Linked DNA regions of Homo sapiens. The protein of the gene in region 1 interacts with the protein of each later gene in a pairwise test. Each region holds a gene or a part of one and is shown on either strand. Other genes may lie near its edges. The genes, in order: MPP3 and PKNOX1.

Evidence for each region.
Region 2: the proteins of MPP3 (region 1) and PKNOX1 interact in binary tests that used the Homo sapiens proteins (3 or more experiments, as listed by UniProt).

What each region holds. Positions count from the first base shown.
Region 1 is NC_000017.11:43,825,823-43,841,433, reverse strand, and holds the start of MPP3 (MAGUK p55 subfamily member 3), read left to right. Parts: upstream 1-8,287; 5' UTR 8,288-8,333; intron 8,334-8,614; 5' UTR 8,615-8,673; intron 8,674-9,182; exon of another isoform or gene 9,183-9,357; intron 9,358-9,396; exon of another isoform or gene 9,397-9,452; coding exon of another isoform or gene 9,453-9,527; coding exon 9,528-9,552; intron 9,553-9,756; coding exon 9,757-9,875; intron 9,876-10,112; coding exon 10,113-10,190; intron 10,191-11,302; coding exon of another isoform or gene 11,303-11,326; coding exon 11,327-11,407; intron 11,408-11,642; coding exon 11,643-11,780; intron 11,781-13,601; coding exon 13,602-13,683; intron 13,684-15,592; coding exon 15,593-15,611. UniProt on the Homo sapiens protein: Participates in cell spreading through the phosphoinositide-3-kinase (PI3K) pathway by connecting CADM1 to DLG1 and the regulatory subunit of phosphoinositide-3-kinase (PI3K). Stabilizes HTR2C at the plasma membrane and prevents its desensitization.
Region 2 is NC_000021.9:43,023,094-43,037,982, forward strand, and holds the end of PKNOX1 (homeobox protein PKNOX1), read left to right. Parts: intron 1-1,777; coding exon 1,778-1,854; intron 1,855-5,608; coding exon 5,609-5,781; intron 5,782-6,796; coding exon 6,797-7,008; 3' UTR 7,009-10,838; downstream 10,839-14,889. UniProt on the Homo sapiens protein: Activates transcription in the presence of PBX1A and HOXA1.

The DNA.
Region 1 (15,611 bases):
GATATTAGTGGAAAAACTAGTGAAAGATTAATAAAGTCTGGAATTTCCTTAATAATAACATTCCAATGTTCATGTCTTAGTTTTGACAAATGTATCATGATTATGTAAGATGCTAACATTAGAGAAAACAGGGGAAAGGGTGTTCAGGAACTCTCTGTACTATCTTTGCAACTTTTCTGTAAATCTAAAATTATTCCAAAATATAAAGTTTATTAAGAAAAAAGAAAGTATACTGGGGAGGCTGAGGTGGGAGGATCACTTGAGCCTGAGGGGTCGAGGCTGCAGTCAGCCGTGAGCATGTCACTGCACTCCAGCCTGGGTGACAGAGCGAGACTGTCTTAAAAAAAAAAAAAAAGCAGTGAAAAGCTAAAAAGAGCATGGGGGTTCCCAGGCATAAGTCTGCATGCAAGTAGACAGGAAGCCAGAAAGATAAGCTCAGTGTATGTGCTTGTTTTCCCTGTGGGCATTTACTGATTCCAAAGCAGCAGCGAAGAGGATGAACTAGGAGTCTAGGGCCCTCTGGGGGCAGGGAATGGAATCTGGCATATTTTTGGTCACATTAGGCTGGGACCCCAAAAGGCTGTACAAACCAGGCCACCATGGACTTCCACCCAGCTTTCTGTCATTTAGGTGTCCCAGGAAACTTCAAGCTTTGAACTTGAATTAAAAGTGGCTCTTGTCTGGCAGCACCTTCCCCATCCCTACCCTCGGGTACCTTAAAGATATTAGTGAAAAATCCTTTCTGGAGGAAAATAGCATCAGCCTAAGCTGATCATTTTTACAAGTAGTTTTTTCAAATACCATCTAATATATAATCAAAGATAACCAAATCTATGAGAAGACTCAATAAGCAAGAATATGCAGAAACAACAAAACAGACCCGTGGGGACTCCATATACTGTAAATAGCAGGATCAGCCTTAACACAACTATTCTTACTGTGCTCAAGGAGGTAAAAGTCAAGCTTGACATTTTTGGCAGGGAACTGGAAAGAACAAAAAGTGACAGCAGATTTGAAAAAAGCACAACATAAGAATTCTAGGACTGGCTGGGAATGGTGGCGCATGCCTGTAGTCCCAGCAACTTGGGAGGCTGAGGCTGGAGGATCGCTTGAACCCGGGAGGCGGAGGTTGTAATGAGCTGAGATCGTGCCATTGCATTCCAGCCTGGGTGACAGAGCAATACTCTGTCTCAAAAAAATAAAACAAAAATAAAAATAAGAGAAATAGGTAACAAAAGCCACAAACAATAGGAAAAGTTATCAGAAATCTCAAAAAACAAAACAAAACAAAAAAACCCCAAAACCCCAGTACAGTAATTTCCCTTCTCATTGAGAAGTAAATGGAGCTGAGCCTGCCCTTTCTCCACCCGCTTCTGACTTGCCCTCTTGCTGCATGCCTGGGCACTAGCCCATTGCTCCTCTTGGAATTATTTCTGGTTCCCTATGGTGTCTGGGCTGAATGCCAAATGCAATGACAATGCACACCTGTAGCCTGAAGCAGATTCTCTCTGTCACCTCTTCAAGGATCGTTGGCATTCTCTTTTTTTCCAGAGCATGCTTGGTAAAGTCTCTTCTCCCTGTCCAGATGGACCCAAAGTCATTCATTCCTCTGGCATTGAGCTCATCTTCCTGTTCCCTGTGCAGCTGCTCTAAACGAGCACCTTGACCGAGCCCTGGCTGGGTGAGGCGACTCCTGCCCTGAGCTTCCGGCCATCTGGGCCAACTCCGCCCTGGCTGCACCTGCCCTGTCCTATGATGCAGCCTCTCCCAGCACTCCTGCTCCAAGCTCTCATCCACCTAAACATCTCTCTCTGCTTCTCTTTTCTTCCATTCTGCTTGCCCAAATATCCTCTGGACTAAAGGACATGTACATATAATATTTTAACAAATATTACCAGATCGTGTCCCAGAAAGTTTGCACCAAATAATATTCCTTCCAAATGTGTAAATGTGTCTTTTCCCCACATCCTTGATAGCACTGGATGTCAACAGACTTAAACATTTTTGTCTTAACAAGGGACATTGCCTCCTATTTTGGCTAAGAATTCTTCGATTATGAGTGAGGTTGTGCATCTTTTGGATTTTTTTTCCTTTTTTTTTTTTTTTAAACAGGAGATCTAGCATCAGTTTTCTGTGTTTATTGGCTATGTATTTTTTGTATTAGACTATTTTCTTTGACCGTTTAAAATTTTTTCATCTTTTCTCATTTATGTAAACTCTTTTAAATTGAGGAATTTAACTTTATCATATTGCATATGATATCATATGTTGCAAATAATATTTTTACCTATAAAAATGTTTACCCTTTTTTAAATCACACATATCCACCTTTTCCTTTATAGATTTGGATTTGGAATTTACTTAGAAATGTTTCCCTCACTGCAGCCGGGCGCGGTGGCTCATGCTTGTAATCCCAGCACTTTGGGAGGCCAAAGCGGGCGGATCACGAGGTCAAGAGATCGAGACCATCCTGGCTAACACGGTGAAATCCCGTCTCTACTAAAAATACAAAAAATTAGCCTGGCGTGGTGGCAGGCACCTGTAGTCCCAGCTACTCGGGAGGCTGAGGCAGGAGAATGGCGTGAACCCGGGAGGCGGAGCTTGCAGTGAGCCGAGATCGCACCACTGCACTCCAGCCTGGGTGACAGAGCGAGACTCCGTCTCAAACAACAACAACAACAACAACAACAACAACAACAACATTAGCTGGGTGTGGTGGCGGGTGCCTGTAATCCTAGCTACTCAGGAGGCTGAGGCAGGAGAATCACTTGAACCCGGGAGGCGGAGCTTGCAGTGAGACGAGATCTCGCCACTGCACTCCCGCCTGGCCGCAGAGCAAGACCCCGTCTCAAAACAAAAGCGAAAGAAAGCTGTATCCCTACCTCACTTCTCACATCAAAATATTTTCTCAGTAAATTTATTTTTATAATCTTGCAGAGGAGGGCAGGTGATCTGCCCGCCTCCACCTACCGAAGTGCTGGGATTACAGGCATGAACCACTGCGCCCAGCCTTTTTTCCTCTCTCTTTTTTTTTCCCATAAAGAGTAGCTATTGTAATTGTCGCCATACCTTATTTTATTTTGAGACAGGGTCTTGCTCTGATGCCCGAGCTGGAGTGCAGTGGCATGATCACGGCTCACTGCAACCTCTATCTGCTGAGCTCAAGCAATCCTCCCACCTCAGCCTCCTGAGTAGCTGGGTCTACTTGCACATGCATCAATTTTTTTTAATTTTTTTATTTTTAGTAGAGACAGGTCTTGCTATGTTGCCCAAGCTGGTCTTGAATTCCTGGGCTCAAGAGATCCTCCCGCCTCAGCCTCCCAAACTGCTGCGATTACAGGTGTGAGCCACTGCACCTGGCCTGTCCCCACATTAAAAAAAAAAAAAAATTCCTCTCCTTCCACTTAAATGTCACCTTTCTCAAATATTAAAAGACAGTATACATGAGGACTATTTCTGTTCTTTCAATTCTGTTCTATTTGTCTAGCTGTTGATTGCCTCTTTAGTACTAAACTTTATTAATTCATTTTTTTTGAGACAGGGTCTTGCTGTGTCACCCAGACTTGAGTGCAGTGGTGTGGTCATGGCTCACTGCAGCCTCGAACTCCTGGGTTCAGGCAATTCTGCTTCAGCCTCCTGAGCATCTGGGACTACAGGTGAGCACCACTACACCCAGATAATTTTTGCATTTTTTGTAGAGATGGGGTTTTGCCATGTTGCCCAGGCTGTTCTTGAACTCCTGGGCTCAAGTGATCTACCTGCTTCGGCCTCCCAGAGTCCTGGGACTATAGCCTCAGTACTAAACTTTAAAAATTGTTTTCATATTTTTAAATCCCACCTCCCTTGGTCCCATAACTCTTTTTTTCCCAGAACTTTCCTATTATTCACCAATGTTTATTTTTCCTGATGAATTGTGGTAGCATTTAATAAATTCTCTGTGAAAAATACTTCTTATATTTTAATTGGAATTGCATTGGGTATAAAGATTATTTCAGAATGAATTAATATAATTGCACTATTGAACTGTTCTTTCCCTAGCCATTTGAGGTACATTTTATCTTTTATGTCCTTCACTAGAATTTTAAAGTTTTTTTCTCCCAAATATCAATAGGTCTTTCATTTTTCCTATTAAGTTTATAAATTGGTATTTAATCTTTCTTGATATCTTAGTTTGGATTTTTTCTTTCATTATACTTAATAATTATTTTTGTCCACAGGAAAGTCATAATGTTTTTTTTGTTTGTTTGTTTGTTTTTAAGACAGAGTCTCGCTCTGTCACCAGGCTGGAGTGCAGTGGTGCGATCTCGGCTCACTGCAACCTCTGACTCCCTGGTTCAAGCTATTCTCCTGCCTCAGCCTCCTGAGTAGCTGGGATTACAGGCACGTGCCACCAAGCCCAGCTAATTTTTGTATTTTTAGTAGAGACGGAGTTTCACTATGTTGGCCAGGATGGTCTCGATCTCCTGACCTTGTGATCTGCCCGCCTCGGCCTCCCAAAGTGCTGGGATTACAGGCGTGAGCCACCGTGCCTGGCCGGAAAGTCATAAATTTTTAATATCAATTGTATACTCTGCCATCTTAAATTTTTTCATCATTTCTTTCTTGTAATTTGTTTCTTTTTATTGGTGAGTAAATATGCCATTGTATGGATATACCACAAGTGAATGAATATTTATCCATTCACTTCTTGATGGACACTTGAATGGGATTAATGCCCTTATAAGAGAACTTGAAGGGAGCACCCTAGTCCCTTTGGCCCCTACTGCCACATGAGGACACAGCGTTCATCCCTTTATGCCCGTCTTTCTTTCTTTCTTTTTTTTTTTTTGAGATGGAGTCTCGCTCTGTCGCCCAGGCTGGAGTGCAGTGGCGCGATCTCAGCTCACTGCAAGCTCTGCCTTCCGGGTTCACGCCATTCTCCTGCCTCAGCCTCCCAAGTAGCTGGGACTACAGGTGCCTGCCACCACGCCTGGCTATTTTTTTGTATTTTTAGTAGAGACGGGGTTTTGCCATGCTGGCCAGGATGGTCTTGATCTCTTGACCTTGTGATCCACCTGCCTCAGCCTCCCAAGGTGCTGGGATTACAGGCGTGAGCCACCGCGCCTGGCCTATGCCTGTCTTTCTCTTCCACCATGTGAGGATACCTATCCAGTGCCATCAGTGAGGAACAGGCCCTCACCAGACACTGAACCAGCTGGCCCCTTGATCTTGGACTTTCCGGCCTCTAGAACTGTAAGCAATAAATTACTATTACTTCTTATAAATTACTGTGGTATTTTGTTATAGCAGCAGGAACTGACTATGACAGGTTTTAATTTGCATTTCCCTGATGACAAATGATGTTGGATGAGTGCTTTCTCATATGCTTATTGGTTATTTGTATATCTTCTTTTGTGAAGTGCATGTTCATATCTTTTGCCTGTTTTTTGATTGGGTGGTTTGTCTTTTTATTGAGTTACAGGAGTTCTTTATTCTGAATACAATCTCTTTGTCAGATATATTTCTTCCTAGTCTCCCAGTCTGTGGCTTGCCTCTTTTCTTTTCCTTTCCTTTTCTTTCTTTTTTCTTTTCTTTTCTTTTTTTTTTTTTGAGACAGGGTCTTACTCTGTCACCCAGCCTGGAGTGCAGTGTCACAATCATGGCTCACTGTAACCTCTGCTTCCCAGGCTCAAGTGATCCTCCTGCCTCAGTCTCCTGAGCAGCTGGGACTACTGGCACAAGCCAACATGCCTGGCTAGTTTTTGTAATTTTAGTAGATACCGACTGGGTTTTGCCGTGTTGCCCAGGCTGGTCTCGAACTCCTGGGCTCAAGCCATTCACCCGCCTTGAACTCTTAAAGTGCTTGAAGGGATTACAGGTGTGGGCCACTGCACCTGGTCCCTGGTCCTATTTTCTTAATAGTGTTTTGTTTTGTTTTGTTTTGTTTTGTTTTGTTTTGTTTTGTTTTGAGACGGAGCCTCACCCTGTGGCCCAGGCTGGAGTGCAGTGGCGCGATCTCCACTCCCTGCAACCTCCGCCACCACACCCGGCTAATTTTTGGTATTTTTAGTAGAGACGGGGTTTAACCATGTTAGCCAGAATGGTCTCCATCTCCTGACCTCGTGATCTGCCCGCCTTGACCTCCCAAAGTGCTAGGATTACAGACGTGAGCCACTGCGCCCGGTCTTTTTTTTTTTTTTTTTTGAGATGGAGTCTCACTCTGTCACCCAGGCTGGAGTGCAGTGGCCTGATCTTGGCTCACTGCAACCTCTGCCTCCCGGGTTCAAGCAATTCTCCTGCCTCAGCCTCCTGAGTAGCTGGAACGGACACAGGTGTGTGCCACCATGCCTGGCTAATTTTTTGTATTTTTAGTAGAGATGGGGTTTCACTGTGTTAGCCAGGATGGTCTCAATATCCTGACCTCAGATGATCCACCCACCTTGGCTTCCCAAAGTGCTGGGATTACAGGCATGAGCCACTGCACCTGGCCAATAGTGTTTTTTGATGAGCAGGAGTTTTAAATTTTGATGAGGTCCATTTATCAATTGTTTTCAGGGTCCATGCTTTTTTTAAAAATTTTTTCTTTTTTTAGAAACGGTGTCTCTTTGTCACCCAAGCTGAAGCGCAGTGGACTGATCATAGTTCACTGCAGCCTTGAACTCTTGGGCTCAAGCAATTTGCCTGCCTCAGCCTCCTGAGTATGTGGGATACAGGCTCATGCCACCATGCCTGGCTTTTTTGTATCCTTTCTAGGAAATCTTTGCATACCCCAAGATTTAAAAGATACCCTCCTGTTTTATTCTAGTAGCTTTATCGATTTGCTTTATGTTTAGGCCAATGATCTCTCTTAAATTGCGTTTTGAATATGGTGTGAGGTAGGGATTGGGTCCCTTCAGGCACATAAATATCTACTTGTTCCAACACCACTTCCTGGTGTTCTTGTCCAAAATCATTTGACCCATATCAGATGGATCAGATGGTTCTCATTATTTTTCCAACAGTAAACATTGCAGCTAAGAATGTGTCTCATGCAGTCTCTCTCCACTCAAAAAGTGTGGTCTGCAGACCAGTGGCGTCACATCACCTGGGAGCTTGTCAGAAATTCAGAATCTGGCACCACTCCAGCATTACACAACCCCCTAGTGAGTCTCAGGCACGTTACATTTTGAGGAGCAATAGTGTAGATATTTCTTGAGGAATGAGGATAATTTTTGAGGAATGAGGGGAAACATCATCATGACATTTGCTGCCTCTCACAGCCTCCCCATGCACTACAGCCTGTGGGGCCTGCCAACCCATTTTCCCTGGTTACTGTGCAGGGCTAGATTTACTTCCAGACTTAACCTCTGGGTCCACCTCTCCTGACATGTGCTGTGCCGTTCTTTGCTGCTGGGATTGAGGGAAGGGGGCCCACTCACTCACCCACTCCTCACCTTTTAATACCCACAACCACCTGCTCACTCACCCAGCAGTTCCTATGCTCTCCCCTATACACATTCTTTCACCAGGAACCTCAGTTTCCTCAATTGCAGAACCAAAATAAGAATGGTCTTGATATCAGGAACTACTGTGAAGGGAAGTGATCTGAGGAGTACCTGGGCATGGAGACAGCACAATATAAGTCAGTTATCGTCATGGCCATTTCAGAGCTCTTTTTCCAGTAAAGCCCCTGGATGCTGCTCGCCTCTGCTATGTAGCCTCACTCCCCTGCAGCCGGGCAGAATGGAGTCCCCCTCCTCTCCAGCCTGACTTCTCCTCCCCTGCTCCGCGTCCCCAGGGCAGCGTGCACCGATAAATCTTTCCCAGCGCGTTGCATTGTTACAGCGAGTTGCCCTCGCATCCGACCGGCCCCCCGCCCCACCTCTGGAGATCTTCAAACCCAGGATCTGTGCCTTGGTCGTCTTTGAAGCCCCGGCCCCTGGCACAGCGCCTGGCACCTGGAGGGCGCTCAATAAATGTTTGCAAAATCGAATTCTCTGTTGAGCAGGTGTCCACCCCTCCACTCGCGGAGGGTGGGTTGCGCGGGCGGAAGGGAAGTCTGGCTGTGTGCCAGGGTGCGGGGGGACACAGGCAGGGGACTCAGGGAGCGGGAGAGCGGGAGCGGGTACGACGCCGGCTAGCGGAGCCCGGCCCGGAGGGTGCGGCGGTGCCAGACGCGGAGGGCGGCCTCCGCTCCTCCCCCGCCTCCTCCCCGCGCCGCGCCTCCTCCCCGCGCCGCGCCTCCTCAGGCTCCGCCACCCCCGCCCGGCGCGGCAGCCGCAGGGAGGGGTCCGGGAAGGCGGAGCCAGCGGCGGCCCAGGCTCTGGGCACTCGCGCGGCTCCCGTTCGCGGAGCACACATCCCGGCGCGACGAGGTAGGAGGCCGCGAGGGGAACGGACGAGGGAGCTGGGCGCCGCGGCGGGAGGGGCGGGAGGCCGGGCCGAGACCCTCCTCCCGTGCTCCCGGACAGCCTCGCGGCCCACCGAGCCCACCGCGGGAGTCTCAACCCCGCCCCTCGGCCCCCGCCTCCCTCTTCCCGCGCCCGCCCCGCCGCGCGCCCCCCGCTCCCTGCTGCTCCGCGTCCTCCGGGACCGCCCTCCGAGGTCCCCCGGGGTCGCTGCTCCTGCGCCCAGTGCGCTCCTTGTTCTCCCACAGGTTCCTTCGGAGAGCGAGCGGGAGTCGGTGCTCGGCCTCCTGCGGGGAGCAGCCCGAGGGTGAGTCCGGCGTGGCGTGGCGGGGCGGGGCGGGGCGGAGGCTGGAGGGCCCGGGGCCGCTCTTACGCCTCTTAGTGGCACCGGGGCTCGGCGCTGCGGGCTGGCTCCATGTTTGCGGAATGAATCAGTCATGACTCTCCTTCTCCTCTTCCTAAGGAGGACTTTTTGAGGTCCACGTGCTGCAGAGCACCTTTGGAGGGCCTCATGAGATAGGGGTCCCCCCTCCTGCATAGTGGAAGCCCGACTCCCATTTCCCCCCCTCCTCTCTGCACTCCAGTCTGGAGGCTCCCTTTGGGTTGGGTCTTGGGGGGTCGGGGACAGGGGGCTTGTAGGCCCAGCCAGGTAGTTGTGGAAGGTGTGTCCCAGCAGGAGACTTGAGCCAGGGCTCTTAGAAGGTTGCAGTGGAGGGGGCGCGCTGCGGAGGACAGCTGACACTGTCAGGCAGGGTCACTTGGCACCTCCAAGGCCAGCCTGGAAGAGCCTGCTTGAATATGGATTTTGACCCACAGCTTACTGAAAGCTTCCACGCCGCTGTTTCTTCATCAATAAAATGGGAACATTCGCAGTCATTTCTCAGGACTTTGTGCAGACAAAAAGTTTATCATAGAAATCACCCCACACAATGCTTGGCACATCGAGGACACTCAGCACATCTTAGCTTTATTTCCTTCCTCTCTGAAAAAAGTAAGCAGAGTTATTTGTTCCCATCCTCTCTGTCCACAGCCTGGTCTCAGAGAACACAGTAGATGTGTAGTCAGTTTGTTCAATAAATATGCTTGATGGAGCTTCAATACCCACCTCCACCCCCTTCTCCCAGAATCTGCAGGGAGAGGTCGGGAGGTGACAACGCCAGCATGCCAGTGCTATCGGAGGACTCTGGTAAGTACCTCCCCCCGGCTGGACCTGCCACAGTCCTGAAGACAAGAGCCTGCCTGGCAGCCTCCAGGCCCTGGCAGTGAGAGCCTGGGGAGAGAATGTCCTCACGGCAGGACTGAAGTGCTGTTTGAGGCCCCACTCGGGCTCCTCGGGGGCAGGGAGCACCCACTGCGTTTGCTATCCTTTGTTTTTCTCACCTCTCCCCAGGTTTGCATGAAACCCTGGCCCTGCTGACCTCCCAGCTCAGACCTGACTCCAACCACAAGGAGGAGATGGGCTTCCTGAGGGATGTTTTCAGTGAAAAAAGCCTCAGTTACTTAATGAAGGTGAAGTCCCACGTCATCCTGCGTGGAAGGGTGTCTAGAGGTCTTTCTAGCTGTCTGTGGCCGTCTGAGGTCATCCTAGTCATCTCCCTGCCCCAGGAAGGCCTTCACTTGCCCACTACACAGGACTTTCTCTTATGGTGCCCTGTCAGTGGCCCAGTCTGCTGCCCCAAATGTCCCCACAGCCGTGGGTGGGATGTGTGGTGTCCAGGGTGCATCTGAAATACTCTGTCTTTGCAGATTCATGAGAAGCTTCGCTATTATGAAAGGCAAAGTCCAACCCCAGTTCTGCACAGCGCTGTGGCCCTCGCTGAGGACGTAAGCCCCAGGTTTCTCCTTACAGTGTCTGCCCCACTCCCCACCCTGTAGGGCTCCTTCATCTTGCCTCGCTTGCTTAGTGTGGGGACACCGGGAATCAGGAGCCCAAAGGTGAAGAGGTGTTTTCTTCCCTTGTCCTCCTCCTTCTCTTCCTCTCTCTGGGTTCCCCGAAAGGTAGGGAGGAACCCGTGAGCCTTGGACTGGGCTGGGAGACACTGTGACATGGAGCTGCCCACTTACTGTGTGTTCTTTAGCAAGTCTGCTTCCTCTGCTGTAAATGAGAGCATTGGATTGGCTCAGCAGTTCCCAAACTGCCCTGAGGACTGGTGATTTGAATAGGTCAATAAGACATTATGTCTGTGCTTTCCTGAAGTCAAGGGACCTACAGTGTGTCCCCGCATACTGGCTCAGGCTTCTCATTTTTTAAAGGAACGCTTCTTAATTTCTTGTGGACCTAGTCGTCTATGTTGCGTGGTTGGGGAAAACCCATTCTGGTTGATTACTAAGATCAGTTCCTGAATAAACTCACCTAACCCCAGGAGATGGCCTGGGGAGGGATGAGTGCAGCTTGTGGGTGCAGAGCCCTGGGCCCTTCTCCACTGTGGAATGTGATTAGGGGCACATTAGATTGCCTGGCTCCCAGGCTCAGCGCTGCCTGTCCCACCAGCTCTGTGATGTTAAGTAGGCCACTCAACCTCTCTGAGCTCCCATTTCCTCATTCATAAAATAGCATCTGAGAGCCAGATAAGCCCAGGTTCAAATCCTAGCTGTGCTGTATATGAGCTCTGTGACTTCGGGCAAAATGTTTAATCTCTTTGAGTCTCAGGATTCTCATCTGTAAAATGGCAAAGTAACAAGACCCTCTGCATCAAGTTGGTTGCGAGGGTTCAGTGAGAAGATCCACATAAAGCAGAAAGCACGTAGGGCTTAAAACGGTGGCTCCTTGGAGGATGGCCCCATAGAGCTGCTCCTGACCCCTGGTGTGATGTTCCCAGGATCATCGTCGTCGGGTGGTTGAGGGTCTGGTGTGCCCCTGGGGGCTGCAGCTGGGTGGGCCCTTCCAAAGAGGAAGGACCCAGCAGATATGGGGCAGGGGCACCTCTAGCCATCAGTGGCGCCTGTCTCATTCTCTGCAGGTGATGGAGGAGTTGCAGGCCGCCTCCGTGCACAGTGATGAGAGGGAGCTGCTCCAGCTGCTGTCCACCCCGCACCTGAGGGTAGTCACACAGAGCCCCTGCCCAGCCATGCCTCTGGGTCTCCTGGGATGGGGGCGGAGGGAGCTCTCCTAATGAGGCTGAGGAGTGGAGACTGAGGGAGCGATCCTCAGCACTAGTGTCTGGGCAGTTGTCTCTCTGGCATGGCGTCTGCCACCCTCCATACCACCGGCCAGCTGCGGCCTGCTGACCCTGTGAGCGGCGGGCCAGCCTTCCTTTTCTCTGGCTTTCCCGGCAGGCTGTGCTCATGGTACATGACACGGTTGCCCAGAAGAATTTTGACCCCGTTCTCCCGCCTCTGCCTGACAATATCGATGAGGATTTTGATGAGGAATCGGTGAAGATCGTCCGCTTGGTGAAGAACAAGGAACCCCTGGTAGGTGCTGCTGCCTGCCCCTCTCTAACCCACTCTTCCCCTGCCTCTCACCCCCACCCAGAACACTGGACAAGATCCTCCCCGAAGTCTTCAGAGTGAGTGACGGCAGCTTTGCCTGCGCTGCTGCTCATCCCTGTGGTGCCTCTGTGTGCAGGGCACCCCTTTCTCTAGGTGGATACAGCCCCTCTCAACTGTGGCCAACACCCTTTGTGTAGTTAATAACCTGCACAATTGTACAGGGTGACCCTGATCATGCTTTAAGCCAGAAATGGACAAACTACAGCCCAAGGGCCAAAACCAGCCCACAGCTTATTTTTTAAAATAAAGCTTTTTTGGAGCACAACCAGGCCCATTCACTTACAGATTGGCTGTGGCTGCCTTTATAGTGCGATGGCAGAGTTGAGTCGTTGTGACAGAGACTGTGTGGCTGGCCTCAAATATTTACATGTGGCCCCTTATAGAAAACGTGTGACAATGCCTGCTCTGAATGTTGAGGAAGCACAGGGCATTCCTCTCCCCAGCAGACAGACTGCTATCACTTTGGTCCTGGTTCAGCATTGATTTACCGAGCAAAGGGACAGCGTTGTTTATGAGATGCTCAGAAGTGGTGGAAGCCCAGAGAATTGAGATTGGCTCCAGAGGATCCCACAGCTGGCATTCTCTATTTCCAACTTTCCCCAAATGACCTCCGACGAGCCTCTTCTGCAAACAGACGAGGATCTCTCCTCTGCCTCTGTTTCCTCACTTGTAAAATGGAGTGGCCATCCATTGATTTAGCAAACACATTGTGAGCCCTCCTATCCAGGCTCTGTATTGGGTGCTGGCGGTTCAGAGCTGAATAAATGATGGATAGCGATGCTGGAAAGTTCTCAGTTCTGGGGGGCTAGAAGTCCTGAGGTTCTTAGCTGATGGCCTCTCTTTCTAGCAATAATTATCTTACGTACTTCAAATAGATGGCACAGATGATGTTAACAATAAGTGTGCAAATGTGTTTGCAGTTACAGCCACTAATAAGTGGTTAACATATGTTGAGTGCTTACTGTGTACTAAGTGCCTTGAGTGGAATCCTTGCAACAACACTGTGAGTTAAATGCTGTCCCACATCTCACAGGAAACAGGCTTGGAGAGGATAAGAGATTTCCTTGTTAAGTCCACATGCTTTTTGTAAACGGCAGAACTGTGTTCACACCCAAGGCTGTCCAGCCCTAGAGCTTAGCTCTTAAGCTTTCTGCCGTCCTGCTGCAGTCCGGCCTGTGTGGTGCAGGAAATCGAGGGCTCGTTAGTGCCTTTCTCATCCTAAGTGTCATCTCTGCTGTGCTTCATGGGCCAAGTCCTGGTCCCGAAGCCCTGGCTGGGGTGCATAATTGGTTTCCCTCAGCAGCAGCAGAAGGCCCGGTAACCCTGTGATTGGGTAGAGGCAGGGTGAGAATTAGCTGGCACGTGTCATCCTCATTATTAAATGTCTTTGCAAGTGGTAGGAACTGTGATATGAGAGAGATGTGATGGAGAACTTACTGGATTTGGCATCACAAAAAGCTTTCCCCTTTACCAGCTGGGTGACCTTGAGGATATTTAACTTCTCTGAGCCCCAGTCCCTCATCTAAAATGTTGCAGCATTATTGTGCCTTGTAAACTGTACAGTGCAGGGCTATATTAATGGGGGATGTTGGTTTTGTTTTGTCTTCAGCATTGGGAAGGTCCCCACTGATCTCTCTGGACTGTCAGAGGGAGGGACTGGGGAGGCTGTGTTGGGTCCAGAGAGTAGGGGTCTGAGGTTTGGAGCTGCTGCTTAAGAACCTGTCTCTTCTGTCTCGGGTTCAGGGTGCCACCATCCGGCGGGACGAGCACTCAGGGGCTGTTGTGGTGGCCAGGATCATGCGAGGAGGCGCAGCAGACAGGAGCGGTGAGTGGCGGCAGTGCAAAGCTGGCCCAGCCCCGATCATGGCCATTGTTCCAGAGCCCTCCACCTTTGCTAATAGGTCCCCTTACCTCCCTCCTATCAGGTCACCTGTTTGGGATTTGCTTTGCTTTCTGGGGTTGTGGCTGGAATTCTCATCTCCTTCCCAAGTCAGTAGAAATTTTAATAGAAAATATAGGCCAGCTGGGCATGGTGGTGCACACCTGTAATCCCAGCACTTTAAGAGGCCGAGGCAGGCGGATCACTTGAAGCCAGGAGTTCCAGACCAGCCTAGCCAACATGGCGAAACCCCATTTCTACTAAACACACAAACCTGGGAGGCGGAGGTTGCAGTGAGCCAAGATCATGCTGCTGCACTCCAGTCTGGGCAACAGAGTGAGACTCTGTCTCAAAAAAAAAAAAAAAAGAAAAAAAAAAAAAAGCCAGGCACAGTGGCTCACGCCTGTAATCCCAGCATTTTGGGAGGCCGAGGTGGGCGGATCACCTGAGGTCGGGAGTTCGAGACCAGCCTGACCCACACAGAGAAACCCCATCTCTACTAAAAATACAAAATTAGCCAGGCTTGGTGGCACATGCCTATAATCACAGCTACTTGGGAAGGCTGAGGCAAGAGAATCGCTTGAATCTGGGAGGTGGAGGTTGCAGTGAGCCGAGATCGCGCCATTGCGCTCCCGCCTGGGCAACAAGAGTGAAATTCCGTCTCAAAAAAAAGAAAAAAAGAAAAAGAAAATATAGGCCATGCACGGGTGGCCCACACCTGTAGTCCTAGCTGTTCGGGAGGCCCAGGCAGGAAGATTGTTTGAGCCCAGGAGTTTGAGGTTGCAGTGAGCCGTGATTACACCACTACACTCTAGAGTGGGCGACGCAGTGAGACCGTCTCAAAAAAAAAAGAAAAAAAAAAAAAATATATATATATATAAATAGTCATGGAGTACTTTGGGGTGATTGAGAAAAAGCTCATGCGTTGGTTTAGTCCAAGGACTGTGACAGTTAAGAATATAGCATGGGCTTGCGGGATTACTAACTGTGGGACAGGGTTGACACCCTTCCCCACCATCCCAGGTCTTGTCAAGCTACTATTACAAAGAGAGTGTTTGTGCCCCAGATTCGTTTGGGTAGAAAGGTTGAGAATCACCGGTGTGTGGAAGAGCTACTAAGCTGGGAGACAAACCTCCTGGTATAGGGCGATGTTACCCCCAAAGTCTGGGGGGTCATCGTTGCAGAGAATCCTAGACCAGCACTTTGCAAACATTAACGAGTCCACGAATTCCCTGAGCATCTTGTTAAAATGCAGACTGATTCAGCAGGTCTGAGCTAGGCCGAAGATTCTGCACTTTTAACCTGCCTCCAGGTGATGCTGATGCAGCCGGGCCAGTGCCCACTTTGAGTAGCATATAGGGCCCTAATATGCAGAGACATTAGTCATTCAGGCAGAGGCTCATAGTGTGTTTACACTCTTAATGATGTCTTCATTGGTGCCTTTGTCTTTCCTTGTTAAGACTTAAGAATGCCATTCTAAGAGTTAATGATAATTTTAAAGAAGCAGAGATTATAGCAAAAAGAACACAGGCTTTCTACATCATAATAACTGTGTTTGAATACTGGCTTCATTATTTCTCAGCAATGTGGCCTTAGGCAAGCTGCTTAATCTTCCTGGGTCTCAGGTGCCAACTTGTAAATTGGAGATTTTACTGGGTGATTTGAGCCCTGCATGCCGAGTGAGGTGCCCAGCACTTAGCAGGGCTTAGTTCGCCCCAGTCCCACCCATCAACTTTAAACCTCGAGTTGGCCCTGCAGTGGGCTTCTCAGGCCGGCCCCTGTGGTGCTTGGAGCTCTGAGCGAGGGGTGCTCAGGTCCTCCTCCTGTGCTGATGGTCAGTCCCTGTGTCTCCTAGGCCTGGTCCACGTTGGAGA
Region 2 (14,889 bases), on another chromosome or scaffold:
TGGCAGCGCCGACCCCCTGTAGTTTCCCGCATACTCTGGGGCAGCATCTCTGGCTGTTTGGTGTTTTCTGCTTGTGTGCTCGTGTTTCCTGCCCTGTTTCTATTTTATGAGCTTTTTAAAGGGGGAGAACAGTATTTCTGTTTCCATGACCTTGAGCTCAGAGCCACACACTCATTGATGGAGTCAAGTTGAGTCACACTGCCGTTAGTTTGAGGAAACAAACCCATCACTGCTGAGGCACATCTGAGGCCGCTCCGTCCCCATGTGATGGGCAGGGGTGTTTCCACGCCGCACTCAGTGTTCCTTTCACGTCAAAGCCAAAGTAAACTCTCACTGCTGACTTTGCTGGTACCGTTCATTCTCTTGGGTCCTTGTTGATCCCAAATCAAGGGCTTTAGTGCATTCAGGTTTTAGAGTAAATGTCGTGTTGGTTTCCACATATAGACAGTCATCAACCTTGGAGAAATTATTTACCATAGCTAGAAATCATTTTCGGTTGGTACTTCTGTGAGTTTTGCTATCTAGTTCTGATTGGATTTTTTTTTTTTATTTTTCTGCACTCCCAGGCTGGAGTGCAGTGGCGCGATCTCGGCTCACTGCAACCTCCGCTTCCTGGGTTCAAGCAATTCTTCTGCCTCAGCCTCCCGAATAGCTGGGACTACAGGTGTGTGCCACCATGCCCGGCTAATTTTTTGTATTTTTAGTAGAGATAAGGTTTCACCGTGTTAGCCAGGATGGTCTTGATCTCCTGACCTCGTGATCTGGCCACCTTGGCCTCCCAAAGTACTGGGATTACAGGCGTGAGCCACCACACCTGGCCAGATTTTTTTTTTTTTTTCCCAGATGGCCAGGCTGGTCTCGAACTCCTGACCTCAAGTTATCCACCTGCCTCAGCCTCCCAAAGTGCTGAGATTACAGGCGTGAGGCACCGCGCCTGGCCCTCTGGTTGGATTTTTTGTATGTGAAATGTTTCAATCATACATAAAAGAAGAATACCATAGCAGGCACTCCTGTCACCAGCCCTGGGTTCAGTTCCTTACTGACAGCACAGGTGAATCCAGCAGAGATCTCACCCCAGGAAAGCCGTCGATGGCATCAGCTTATCCCAGTGTCAGTTGATTCCTGTGGTACCCATGATGGAAATTTGTCCCCCAGCCTGCCTGGCCATTTCCTACTCCACCTGTTTCACCAGCTGTGGGATGGGGGCAGTTTGTAAACACTTCATGCCTCAGTCTCCTCTTCTGTAAAATAAAGACACTGACAGTGACTGTCTCAGCAGGTGCTTCTGAGGAATCAGTGAATTATTATAGAATGGACCAAGGTAATTGAAATGTGCTGTGTATTGCTTGTGGCAGAGGCTCCCGGGCCAGAACGCATCCACCCATCCTCTTTATATGGATGTAGTTTATTGTTCATAAGTTAAAGTTCAATAAAGTTGATAAAGAATCTATAGATTGTATCAAGCCTGGTGTAGACTCACCGCTGGACTGCATAGCTGCTCCTCATGATGTCGCTGCTGTTATCGTCACCGCTGAACCGTTAAACGTGGGGGGCGGTCTGCCTTGGCCTATGCACTAACCAGCCACTGCAGCACTAGGACATTCCTGGGACGAGGAGAAACACTTTGTTCGTGAGACTACAGTTAGGTTTTGGCTAGAAGCACTGTTGACGTGACCATTATTTTCTAATGATTATGTAATGCTCACATTTTGCCTAAATCGTCTTGATTTCCTTTGTAAACTCGAAGGCCATGGTAACCTTCTTTTTTTATTTTCAGCATCCCTACCCAACAGAGGATGAGAAAAAACAGATTGCTGCTCAGACAAATTTGACACTACTCCAAGTCAACAACTGGTAAGGTGCCCTGCTTCCTGAAATCATGCTGTCAGCACGGTAGAGCACTTGGAAACCCTGGCACCAATACATGGTGAAATCTTGCTGAAAATAGGAGGTCTCTCTTTTTCTTTTTTCCCAACTGAGACGGGGTCTTGCTGTGTTGCCCAGGCTGGTCTCGAACTCCTGGCCTCAAGTGATCCTCCCACCTCAGCTTCTCAAAGTATTGGGATCATGGGTGTGAGTCACTGCACCCGACTAAAAATATGAGTTCTTTTAATGGGCAATGGGAGCAGGAGACTTAGGAATAAACCAGGTTCAACCTAAGTTTTCATATCAATACCTCATTATGGACTGCATCCTGCCTGCCTCTTTAGAGCTGTTTCTCTAGGGTGCTACTGTCCCCAAGCCCCACATTCATACAAAACTGTGATGTGTTGTTAGTGGATGAGCCTCTGGATGGTGGGAGGCCAAGAGTGAGAGGTCCTGCCCCATGAGGGGACCCTCTGCCACTCTTTCTTGTGGGGGTCCTGCTCCACAGAAGAGTCTGGGAGCCATTCCTAGCAAAGAAACACCCAGGAGGACATTTCATAAAACGTCCCCTTCTAGTCCTGCTGTCAAACATTGCTGTGGACACTTAGACTCTGGCCAGATGTATTTTCTTCAGTAAGGGCTTGTGCGTGTTCCTAGGTGGCACTGAAGTGGGGGGTGGTCTTCCATTTTGGTTATTAGTCACTTGTCACATTTTTTAAATTTACTTATTCAGATGTAGGAAACAGTTTCAGCTTAATAAAACTGGCATGCATAAAAGAAGAAAGCACAAATTCTTCCAGTTGTAAACATTATTATCTTTATCTTAGCTGTGCTAAAATGTGAACTTGTTGAAGTTCCAGCAAGAAAGTCTTTGTCTTTGTGCAGTCGTGTGTGCGGGAGGTATGCTTCGGGGTTGCATAAGTACTTCCATGATCCTGCATTCTTGCCATTCTTTTAGATGTGGGTAGTCACAACAGACTATACTATTTGCGTTATTTCCTGTTAAATCTTTTAAATAGAATATTAACAAAAATTTAAAGATTCTGAGTATGTTGTTGCTGCAGTGGTTGTTATATTCTGCTCATGTGCTTGTTTTCCTGGAGCTATGTGGAAACCACATACTTTGGTTGGGGCACACCTGTGGTGGGTGGGCTGAAGTGGGAGGGATGCGTCTCTGGATGTGCTGGTGCCCCGTCACTGCTCAGCACCCTCCTGCTTTTCTGCATTCATGATTTCCTGGTGTTCCCTGACTTGCTACTATGTTACATTAACGAATTGTCTTATCTAGGTTTAGTATCAACTTTTAATTTTTAGTAATAATAACAGTTTAATAATATAACTTAAAAATTCCAAATTTCTGAAATCTTTAATATTTGTAGCTACTTTTACTTTTTGTGACTTTCTTTTCTTTTGTATTTACAAACATTACATCTTGGAGTGAGATACACACACCCATCATTAGTTCATGCCTCTGCTGGTAGCAGCTTTGAATAAGAATGATTTAAAAACACATTACAGGCCAGGCGCGGTGGCTCACACCTGTAATCCCAGCACTTTGGGAGGCCGAGGTGGGCAGATCACGAGGTCAGGAGTTCAATACCAGCCTGACCAACATGGTGAAATCCTGTCTCTACTAAAAATAGAAAAATTAGCTGCGTGTGGTGGTGCACACCTGTAATCCCAGCTACTGAGGAGGCTAAGGCAGTAGAATGGCTTGAACTCGGGAGGTGGAGGTTGCAGTGAGCCCAGATCGCACCATTGCACTCCAGCCTGGGCGACAGGGTGAGACTCAGTCTCAAAAAAAAAGAAAACAACCAACACATTACAGTAGCAGTGGGGCCTTCCCTCCCAGGTCTCGCTGGGGTTGTGGGTGGCCATGGAGCTTGTGCTGCAGGGATCACCAGGTTCCTCTAAATGAAGCATGGCGGGATCCGATCTGCTTCATTATTATTAGACTGTGTGCTAATATAATTGTAGATATTTTTAAATCTTGGACTTTTAAAATTAAGCAACCTTAGAGCTGATCCAGTTCTAGTGTTGTTGTTTTGCAGAGGGGGGCATTAAAAAAAGAAAGAAGTTGTCACAGTGACAAACCAGAGTAGAATCTGAGTCTAAAAGTAATGCTTTTGTTTCCCTGATATCGTGAACATGGCTACTCAGCTATCCAGATAGAGAAGTCTGGCTTTTAATAGATGAGCAATGTGTGACTCTAGCAAGAGGTCAACTACTTTATCATTCATGTTACTGAAAAAAGAAGACAGAAACGAGGCCTTAAGCATGGTTGGTATTGCTGCTTTTGCGTTAGGTTGGGGTAATGCATGAATCTGGACGGGTTCTGGTTTGATAGGCGCTTTCACGGGACAGATGTTGTTTTTCTTTCCGTTTCTTTCCATTTCAGCTCTTTTTGTAGCAAAGTGGCCCAGTCAGTGGCATAGGGTGGTGGGTGCAGCAGAACGCATGTCTGGTTTGCTATCTTTGTCCTCTAGTCACTGCAGGAGGAAAAGCTGGCCTAGGGATTTGAGTCTCCTTGCACTTTCTCACATTTAAAGGCAACAGCTCATAGCATAAGAATGGGAACTGAAGACAGCAGCCTTTAATCTTAATGTATTTTGAGATTGCTATCATACTCATTTGATATGAAACAATGTCCAGCCTGCCTTGCCAACCTGTGACTGTTGGGCCAGGTGCAGTGGCTCACATCTGTAATCCCAGCACTTTCGGAGACCAAGGCAGGCAGATCACAAGGTGAAGAGATCGAGACCATCTTGGCCAACATGGTGTAACCCCGTTTACTAAAAATACAAAAATGAGCTGGGCGAGGTGGTGGGCGCCTATAGTCCCACCTACTCAGGAGGCTGAGGCAGCAGAATCGCTTAAACCCAGGAGGCGGAGGTTGCGGTGAGCTGAGATCGTGCCACTGCACTCCAGCCTGTGCGACAGGGCGAGACTCCATCTCAAAAATACAGAAACAATGTCCAGCCTGCCCTGCCAGCCTGTGATTGTTGCTGCTCTCGTTCTCTGTGGAGTCTTATCACAGGCGTGAGTGCCTGGTCTGACAGAGTCGCCAGCGTCTGTCGGGGATTTCATCACTGCTGGTGCCTACGTGCTGTGCTGGCCACATGTCTAGGACCACTGGAGGACTTACGCCTCCAGTCATCTAAGAAACAGCTCATCATTGGGAATGGTTTTTGAAAAGATGCAGCTCTTGCCTTAGATCGTGCTTTGTGGTGAAACAAGAGGAGGTGGCAGTCCCATTCTCTGATGGCTCAGACACGTTGCCACCCAGAGGCTCGGCCCCGTTGGTGATCTGGTGACGTCCAGACGAGTGCAGACTGCCCGATCGTCTCAGGCATGATGGCACTACAGAAAGTCTTGCTTCTTTAACATTTTTCTTCCTTAGGGAAAACAGTGTCAGATTCACAAATTCAACAGTATCATCTATGTCGTTATGAGTATCTAGTTCACAAACATGCCCTAAAGGAGTTGAGACAAAAAAAAAAATGCCATGGACGAGTTGGTGCTTATTTGCATGATTTTTAAAACAACAGGCTCTGTGTTTCTGGGCATTTAGAGAATTCAGAAGAGCTGTTGAGTCCTCTTAAGTAGTTACTATAGTGGAGAACTTGAGTCATTCTTTGTAGCGTGCTTCGTAGAGCAGCGTGTTTGTTAGAAGGATTTGTTAATCCTGTATAGGGTCTTTACGAAGGCTGTTTTCATGGAAGCTTCTCTTTGTTGACTCCAGGTTCATCAATGCCAGAAGACGAATTCTTCAGCCAATGTTGGATTCAAGTTGTTCAGAGACCCCCAAAACAAAGAAAAAAACTGCTCAGAACCGGCCAGTTCAGAGGTTTTGGCCTGATTCTATTGCATCAGGAGTCGCACAGCCACCGCCGAGCGAGCTCACCATGTCGGAAGGTACAGGTGGCCGGCCAAGGCCAGACATGGTGGACCATGGGGTGGGGATTATGAACAAGAGGCCTGGATCAGGCCTGTTAGCTGTGAGCCTCAGGTAATGTGGTGAACGAGAGTGCGTGGTTCTCTTTCTCTGCAACTAAAACATGAGGAAGCTGCATTCTGCGTGCACGGGAGCTCTCAGTAAGAGTTAGGAGCACCAGTAGTAGAGAATGTAAAACACGTGATAGAGATATGAAATCATTAATTCTGTCTCAAAGACACAGTCATGCCCATGGATCTTCTCCTTTGCTTCTGTGTTTGCTCTCCTTTTCCCTCCGACGCCGGGTGTGGAGGAGGGACTTACCCCGTTCTCACCACGTGGCTTCTTTCTCTTCATCCCCCATGCCCTTCTCTTGTTTTTGCTTGTTCCCTGTGGCCTCTGCTCTCCATCCCCTGACGTAGGCAGCCATTCTGATGTGTTTTATAGGCATCTTTCTGTTCGCATGAGGTCTTCATATTTTGGATGGTTTTGTGTGCATGTGTTTTTATTTTTTTTTATTTGTTTGCTTTGTTTTTTTTTTTTTTTTTTTTTGAGACAGAGTCTCACTCTGTTGCCCAGGCTGGAGTGCAATGGCGCAATCTCGGCTCACTGAAACCTCTGCCTACCAGGTTCCCGCCATTCTCCTGCCTCAGCCTCCCGAGTAGCTCGGAGTAGCTACAGGTGCCTGCCACCACGCCCGGCTAATTTTTTGTATTTTTAGTAGAGACGGGGTTTCACCGTGTTCACCAGGATGGTCTTGATCTCCTGACCTCGTTATCCGCCTGCCTCAGCCTCCCAAAGTGCTGGGATTACAGGCATGAGCTACCGCGCCCGGCCCAGAAACAGTTTCTTAAATCCCTGTTGAACATTCCCTAAACATATATAGGTGTTTTATTTTAACTTTAGGTCAAACGAGCAAACAGCACCCAATTGAGTAATAAAGTGTTTTTCTGTGAGTACTAATTTAAATAATGACACACCTTCATCCTGCCGCAGGAGCTGTTGTCACCATCACCACGCCCGTGAACATGAACGTGGACAGCCTTCAGTCTCTGTCCTCGGACGGGGCCACCCTGGCGGTGCAGCAGGTCATGATGGCAGGGCAGAGCGAGGACGAGTCTGTGGACAGCACAGAGGAGGATGCGGGTGCCCTGGCCCCTGCCCACATCAGCGGGCTGGTCTTGGAGAACAGTGACTCCCTGCAGTAGGGGCAGGAGCAGACGCACCTGACTTTTTGGAGTTTGCACAGCAAACATTTTACACAGTTTTATTTCTAATATGTTTTATATGTAGATATAGAAGAGTGCACTTTTGTATTTCATAGTAAGCTTAAAGCGCGTCTTTGCCGGTGCAGCGACTTCTTTCAAGTGTGTGTGTGTGTGTGTGTGTGTGTGTGTGTGCGTGTGTGCGTGTGTGTGGATTTTTAAAGAAATTCTTTAAAGGTTTAACGCTAGATTGTGAGGAATGACACACCACTCCCTCCCCACCTTGAATCCCTAATTAGATTAAGGAATAGCGCTGCCATTTTCTAAACCGTGATGCGGTTGTCACTTAGTTCTGTGGTTCCAGCAGATCTCAGTGGGCTGGTTGATTTGTGTGGCCCATGGATTTGAAAGAAGCTGCTGCACCCGAAACTGCCAGTGTGCGGTGACAACGGCACACGCCTAGACTGAGTGTGGTTTCGTCGTGAGTGGATGGACGGCAAGCTTAGCAAGCCTAAGTCCCCTCATGTTCAGTGAGCCTGTTTCATTTGCTATATAGAAAAAGAAACTCCTATTTTTACCTTGCTGGAATTATTGGATAAAAAAGCTATTTTTATAAATTCGTTATGAATTGGATGATGACTATATTGAGGATAAAATTTCTAGAGAAGAAACAATACATGCTTGCTATTAATATTTCAATTTGGAATGTTCTGAATTGACCAAATTTAATGAACCTGCCCAAAGTTAGCTACCGTTCCATGGTTCTTTGCTCTCCCCGGGTAGTGATGAACATTTACTACTATAAAAGAAACAGCTATTTAATGAAATTTTGATATCTGCAAATTTTTGTTGATATGTAATGCTCAGATTGCATTTTACACTTGATCTAAACATATATCGAAAGATATCTGCTAAACAGGACTTCAGGTAAGTGAGGTGAAATGGTAGCCAGTGACCCGTTAGGAGCTCTCACCGTACATACTCCAGTCTAATTTAAATCTGACCACAGTTGCATGGTCGCTTTACCATGTTAGCTGTGTATTGTTTTAAAAGTTTTAACTTCAAAATATGTTATGCACAGAATGTTTATTATAAACTAATATAAAATGTGCTCTACCCCATTGGCTCAGAGCTAGGGCAAACAGCAGATATTCAGACTTTATTACTTAACTAGCGGACATCCCTGGAGTCCCAGCAGCGAGCTGGTCTGGCGAGGGCACCTCGGCAGCCCCCACGGGTTGGCTCCTACGTTTGCGTTTGTGGCTGGTCTCCTGGTGTCAGTGTTCTCTTGTACGTTGTTGCTTTCGACTTTTCAGAGCCCTCCTGCTCACTTGACCACGTGAGATTTGGAATAACTGTAGGACTTCTGTTTCCTGGTAACAAGATGAACCGAGAGAGTGGGCTGGGTTCTGTTTTCTTTGGTTTTGATTTGTTTTCATTGTTTACTTAGGAGTGGTGCTTTTTCTCAGAAAACAGGCCACGGTGTTTCATACAGAATGTCTTCATATCATCTGAAATGGTATGGCTGAAGTTCATTTGTTTACAGGGTCGGGAATGTCTTCAGTTCTTGAGAGTCAACAGTAATGATTGGTTGTAAGCCAAGGGACATTTTAAGCTAGTGAAGAGTTTTTTCTGGAATTGATTTTTCCCAAAAGAATATATTAATTGAGGTTAAGAAGTCAGTGGGAAACACACAGAAATTTGTTTTAAAATCTTTCAGGAGCTTTACTGAAAGACTTGGTTATCAAGTCTTTTGGGGAGAGAATGACATTTTTTTTTTGAGACAGAGTTTTGCTCTTGTTGCCCAGGCTGGAGGGCAATGGTGCAATCTCAGCTCACTGCAACCTCCACCTCTTATGTTCAAGCAATTCTCCTTCCTTAGCCTCCTGAGTAGCTGGGATTACAGGCATGCGCCACCACACCCGGCTAATTTTGTATTTTTAGTAGAGATGGGTTTCTCCATGTTGGTCGGGCTGGTCTCGAACTCCCGACCTCAGGTGATCTGCCTGCCTCAGCCTCCCAAAGTGCTGGGATTACAGGTGTGAGCCACCGCGCCCGGCCGAGAATGACATCTTAAAGCCACCATTGCGTTCCTCATTTGTGAACTGTCTTCTCATATTTTAAGTCAAGTCTATAAGATCATTTTTAACCTAAGTTCCAACTTTGTTGGACTCCTTAAAATAAGCACCCATGAAAGCCAGCCAGCCCTTCCTCCTTCCCTCACCACCCTCCGTCTCTTCGGCTGCTTGCTCTTTAGTGTAGATTAGTGGAAGCCATTCACAGAATGTAGACTCATGTATAGGTCACCGTTTCTTTCCCCCACTAGAAATCACATTCACTAAGCAGTGGATTGAATTTAAGAGTGCTGCCCCTGCCCGGCGCAGTAGGGCGTGCCTCTAGTTCCAGCTACTCGGGAGTCTGAGGCAGAGGATGGCATGTGCCAGGAGTTTGAGGCTGCAGTGCACTATGCTTGCACCTGTGAATAGCCACTGCACTCCATCTTGGGCAACACAGTGAGACCCCCATCTATAAAAAGAGAGCACTGCCTGAACCTCGGTGGCACTGGGAAGCTCTGGCCTGAGAGTTAAACACCCATGCTGAATGATACAGTGTGCATTCTCTCCAGCTGCAAACTTTCTTCAACTTTCCTAAATTCTTACTAAATTCAGAGGAATAGGATAAAGATCACTTAGAGAAAGGGTGCTTATGGACATAGCCTGAGTTTCCTTTAACCTCTCTGCAATGGGTGCTTTTAACTAGCTTCTACATGGCAAGCTGTTTCAGTTTGCAAAATCACTGCCCAGCATGTTTGAGGTCAGTTGGCACCTTAAAACACCTGTTCTCCAGCCCTTGGACAGTGGAGAGAATCTGTAAAAGTGTGACCCCCTCTAAGATTTCGTTTTAAATGATCAGATTCGGTTCCAGTTTTATTCTTGTTGAGTTTTTCCCTATGAAGGCTCCTTTTGAATGTGTCTTGAGACCCAAATTGAGCATGTTGCTGTTATTCCTGCCCTGCACCTGTGGAGCAGGAGTGGCAGGGCTGGCTGTGCTGGGTTCCAGCTCGCTCCCACCGAGGGACTAGCTTGGCCTTTGCGCTTTGATTCCAGATAGTAAGATGAGTGGAAGTGTTTATCGAGCATGCAAAAGAAACCCTCACGGCTAAGGGCTCTGGGAGTTGTGTCTGTGTGACCTGAGAGTGATCCATCTCCTGCCTGTGTGAGGTAGCAGTGGGCACTTTTCATTGAGACAAACTCCAGGGTGTCCAGAGGGGGTTCTGCCCCTTGTGAAGGCCCATTCCTGGCACTTAGAGACAGAAAGAACTCAGCAATCTTTCGTTCTAGTTATATTCGGTCTTTGAAACTGACAATCTTTGAAATGTGAATACTGTAACAATATGTTTTCTTGGATTGTTGTCTTTAAAAAGGATTTTTGTGAAGCAATTGATTTATCAAAGCAAAAAAATTAAAAATAGAAACTTGCTTTATGGATGTTTTATTTTATAAAGCTCATGTCACCAAAAGCTGCTTCTCCATTTTATGTAAAACATTGAGAATGTTTTCATGTTTTCTGGTGACATGTAGGGTCTGTAGTCACCCCTGCATATTGAGAAACTAGGACCACACTGCATCGGACTAGTCAGGTCCATTTACATGTCCAAGAATCTTTTCTTAAATTCCTTACTTTGTTCATTCATTGGCTGTTCAGGCAGAAAATGGAAACAGGTAGCTTTTATGTTTTTTATTATAGTTTTCCACAAATCTAATTATTTTGATAGTTACAAGAAGATAATGATTCATCAGTAAGCTAACATAATCCCTTTCATAGTTCATATTATAAATTTTCATGACAAGAAAGTTCCTGAAGATTTAAAAGGTACATTAAAACAATTTCAGAGGGTTTTTAATCTTTGTTGTCCAGAGTGTTATAACTCCCAACAACTGTTCATGCTTAGAGGCTAAAGTCAGCAGACTTAGTATTTTAAAAACCACATGCAAAATTATGAGTCTTGTTGGTAATTAGTAGTGACAGCTGACTGTATTGTTTCAAGCAATGTTTTCATTGGTTACAGAAAACTGAGGCACTGTGTTGTATTTCCAGCTCCCTTAGTTCAGAGGTGAGAGGACGGGCATGAACTTTATTAATGTGGGGCCTCAGGCAGCCCCAGTCTCTCTAGGCTTCCAGGGCTTCATTTATGAAAAGGAAGAACTGGCTTATAAGGTTTATTCTAGCCTTACAATGATGTTTATGACTAATAAGATTCTATCTCTCCATCTAAAGACTGATGAGGAAGTGAGTAATGGTCTAGCAAATCCAGAAAATAAGAAATATTTGGATTAAATATTTAGTGTTTCACAGTTTTTGAATTATATGAATGTCATAAACAATGTCTACTGTTTTTAGCTTTCATGCCATTCTATTATGTATACTCTCAGAAGAAATTCTTAGTACAAGGCCGGGCGCGGTGGCTCCCGCCTGTAATCCCAGCACTTTGTGAGGCCAGGGTGGGCGGATCACCTGAGGTCAGGAGTTTGAGATCAGTCTGGCCAACATGGTGAAACCCCATCTCTACTACAAACACAAAAATTAGCCAGGCATGGTGGCAGGCACCTGTAATCCCAGCTACTCGGGAAGCTGAGGCAGGAGAATCTCTTGAATCCGGGAGGCGGAGGTTGCAGTGAGCTGAGATTGTCCCACTGCACTCCAGCCTGGGGCATAGAGCGAGACTCTGTCTCAAAAAAAAAAAAAATTCTTAGTACAAATTATTTTTGCCCTTGTACAGTGGGATATTTTTACCTTCACTAAGACCTAGGATAGTTGTTTAACTATCATTGTTTATAAAATCTGCGAGACTAGTGACTATATAGCATCTAAGCACATGTGACTGAAAGCAGTGAATGCCCGGGGTGGCATCTGGGCCTGGGGCCAGCTTTTCCCAATCCCACGTCTTCACCATGCAGCCCAGGTCGGGTCTGGCACCTGCAGGCTCCTCTCTGCCAGGCCTCCTCAGGTCTGGCTTTTGTAGTCTATAAAGGACTAGTTAGTGTTGCTTACTTGGATAATTTGTAAGTATTCTGTATAAAAATCGTATTTAGAAGGTATTATCTTATACAGATGTTTCCATTCTTTATCTCCCACAGCAACCCACACTCTCATGGCTTCTGCTGCGGGAAGCGCTCCTTCCTGGGATTCCCTGGCACAGTTCAGATGAGTATTTCTCCACCTTCACTGGCTGCTCTCCTCTAGCTCCACAGTCTCTACAACCCAGGTCTACACTAACACACAAGACAATGTAAACTGTTAAGGGCTTCACAACTTATTTCTGACATGGATTGCTGTGTTAAGATAATATGAAAGAAAACTCAGTGAATATAAAGTAAAATATTTTAAAATATAACTGATTTTTCTACAGGCCATTTTCTAAAAATGTCTAAGCAGCTAAGGACTTCAACCCTGTAAAAAGCAAGAATGGTTTTAATATAAATCAGGAATTCTAGACCGGGCGTGGTGGCTCACACCTTTAGTCCCAGCACTTTGGGAGGCCGAGGCAGGCAGATCACCTGAGGTCAGGAGTTTGAGACCAGCCTGGCCATCACGGAGAAACCTGGTCTCTACTAAAAATAAAAAAATTAGTCGGGCATGGTGGTGGGTGCCTGAAATCCCAGCTACTCGGGAAGCTCAGGCAGGAGAATCGCTTGAACCCAGGAGGTGGAGATTGTAGTGAGCCGAGACCACGCCACTTCACTGCAGTCTGGGCGACAGAGCAAGGCTCTGCCCCAAAATAAATAAATAAATAAATAAATAAATAAATAAATAAGGAATTCTTTTATTCCAGCATCTTTCAAAAGAAACATTTTAGGCTGGGCGCAGTGGCTCACACCTGTAATCCCAGCACTTTGGGAGGCCGAGGCCAGTAGATCACAAGGTCAGGAGTTCCAGACCAGCCTGGCCAGTATGGTGAAACCCCGTCTCTACTAAAAATATAAAAAATTAGCCGGGCATGGTGGTGCATGCCTGTAGTCCCGGCTACCCGGGAGGCTGAGGCAGGAGAATTCCACGAACCCGTGAGACCGAAGTTGTGGTGAGCCAAGTTCACACCACTGCACTCCAGCCTGGGCGACAGAGCGAGACTCCGTCTCAAAAAAAAAAAAAAAGAAAAGAAAAGAAACATTTTAATGACAGCTTTAGTTGCTTAGACATTTTTAGAAAATGGCCTGTAGAAAAATCAGTTATACTTTAAAATATTTTACTTTATATTCACTGAGTTTTCTTTCATATTATCTTAACACAGCAATCCATGTCAGAAATAAGTTGTGAAACCCTTAACAGTTTACATTGTCTTGTGTGTTAGTGTAGACCTGGGTCATAGAGACCGTGGAGCTAGAGGAGAGCAGCCAGCGAAGGTGGAGAAATACTCATCTGAACTGTGCCAGGGAATCCCAGGAAGGAGCGCTTCCCGCAGCAGAAGCCGTGAGAGTGTGGGTTGCTGTGGGAGGGTAGATGGCAGGAGGACATGGGGCTGGGCAGCCGGGAGGGACTCGTGGCCTGGGAGACAGCAGTGAAGAGGAGAGGGGAGAGCAGAGGCAGGCGCCATGGGTTCTGGGCATGGCCGTGAGCCACTGGAAGATGATACGGGAGCTTATCTTTGTTCCCTTGGGGAAGAAGCCCTTATTTTGAGACCTCAAAGGCATAAATCCTAAGGCAAAATATGGGTGATTTGGCCAGATCAAAATTCAGTTTTTCTGTGCATTGGAGGACACAGAGGACCATTAACAGGTAGTGACTGAGAGGAGCACTTTCCTCGTTCCTTCTTTTTAATGGATAAAGCCGGCAAGGAGCCAGTGTTAGGGGGATTCCTGCAACTCAGCAGGTAACCAACTAGAAGTCTCTAGAACCATGACAGCGGATATTAATAGTTCATTGAAAGGAGACCAGATGACCAAGCAGCACGTGAAGACTGCACGGCCTCGCCACGCCCAGGGAGTGTGAGCTGGAGCCCAGGGGCGTGCCGCCCCGTCTGCCGGCCGCAATGAGGAAGCTGGGATTGGGGATCTGCAGAAACGGGAACTTGCGTGGTGCTGGCGGGAATATCACGGGGCCAGCCATTCTGGAATGAACCTGACAGGACAGTCATGTGTCACTTAACAATGGGCTGTGCTCTGAGAAATGCCTCTGTAGGGGACTCCATCCCGTAGGAACATCACAGCGCACTCACACAGCTCACTGTACACACAGCCTGTGCGGCTTAGCCTATTGCTCCCAGCCATGGGCCTGTGCGGCACGTGACCCTGCTGACTACCCTGGGCAATCGTAACATAATGTAAGGATTTGTGTGTCTAAACAGCTAAATTGGCCGGGTACTGTGGCTCACGCGTGTAATCCCAGCACTCTGGGATGCTGGGGCAGGCAGATCACTTACGCTGAGGAGCTCAAGAGCGGCCTGGGCAATAGAGTAAGACTTCATCTCTACAAAAAAATGTAAAAATTAGCCAAGCATGGTGGCTCATGCCTGTAGCCCCAGCTACTCAGAGGCTGAGGTGGGAAGATGTCTTGGACTCAGGAGGGAAAGGTTTCAGTGAGCTGTGATTACACCACTGCATGCCAGCCTGGGCGACAGAGCCAGACCCCGTCTGAAAAAAAAATGCTAAACAAAGGTACAGTAAAAATACAGTCTAAAGTGTTAAAAATAGCACCGGGCACTTACCAGGAGCTGCTCGGATGCCTCAGGGAGTGAGGGCGAGTGAGCATGGAAGCCTAGGATGTTACCGTATGTACTTACGTGCACTGGCAGCACCACAAACACGGGAGATACACTGTGCTACATGTTATGAGGACAGGGACTTCTCAGCTCCTGTTGTAACCTCACGGGACCTCCTTGGTCTGCTC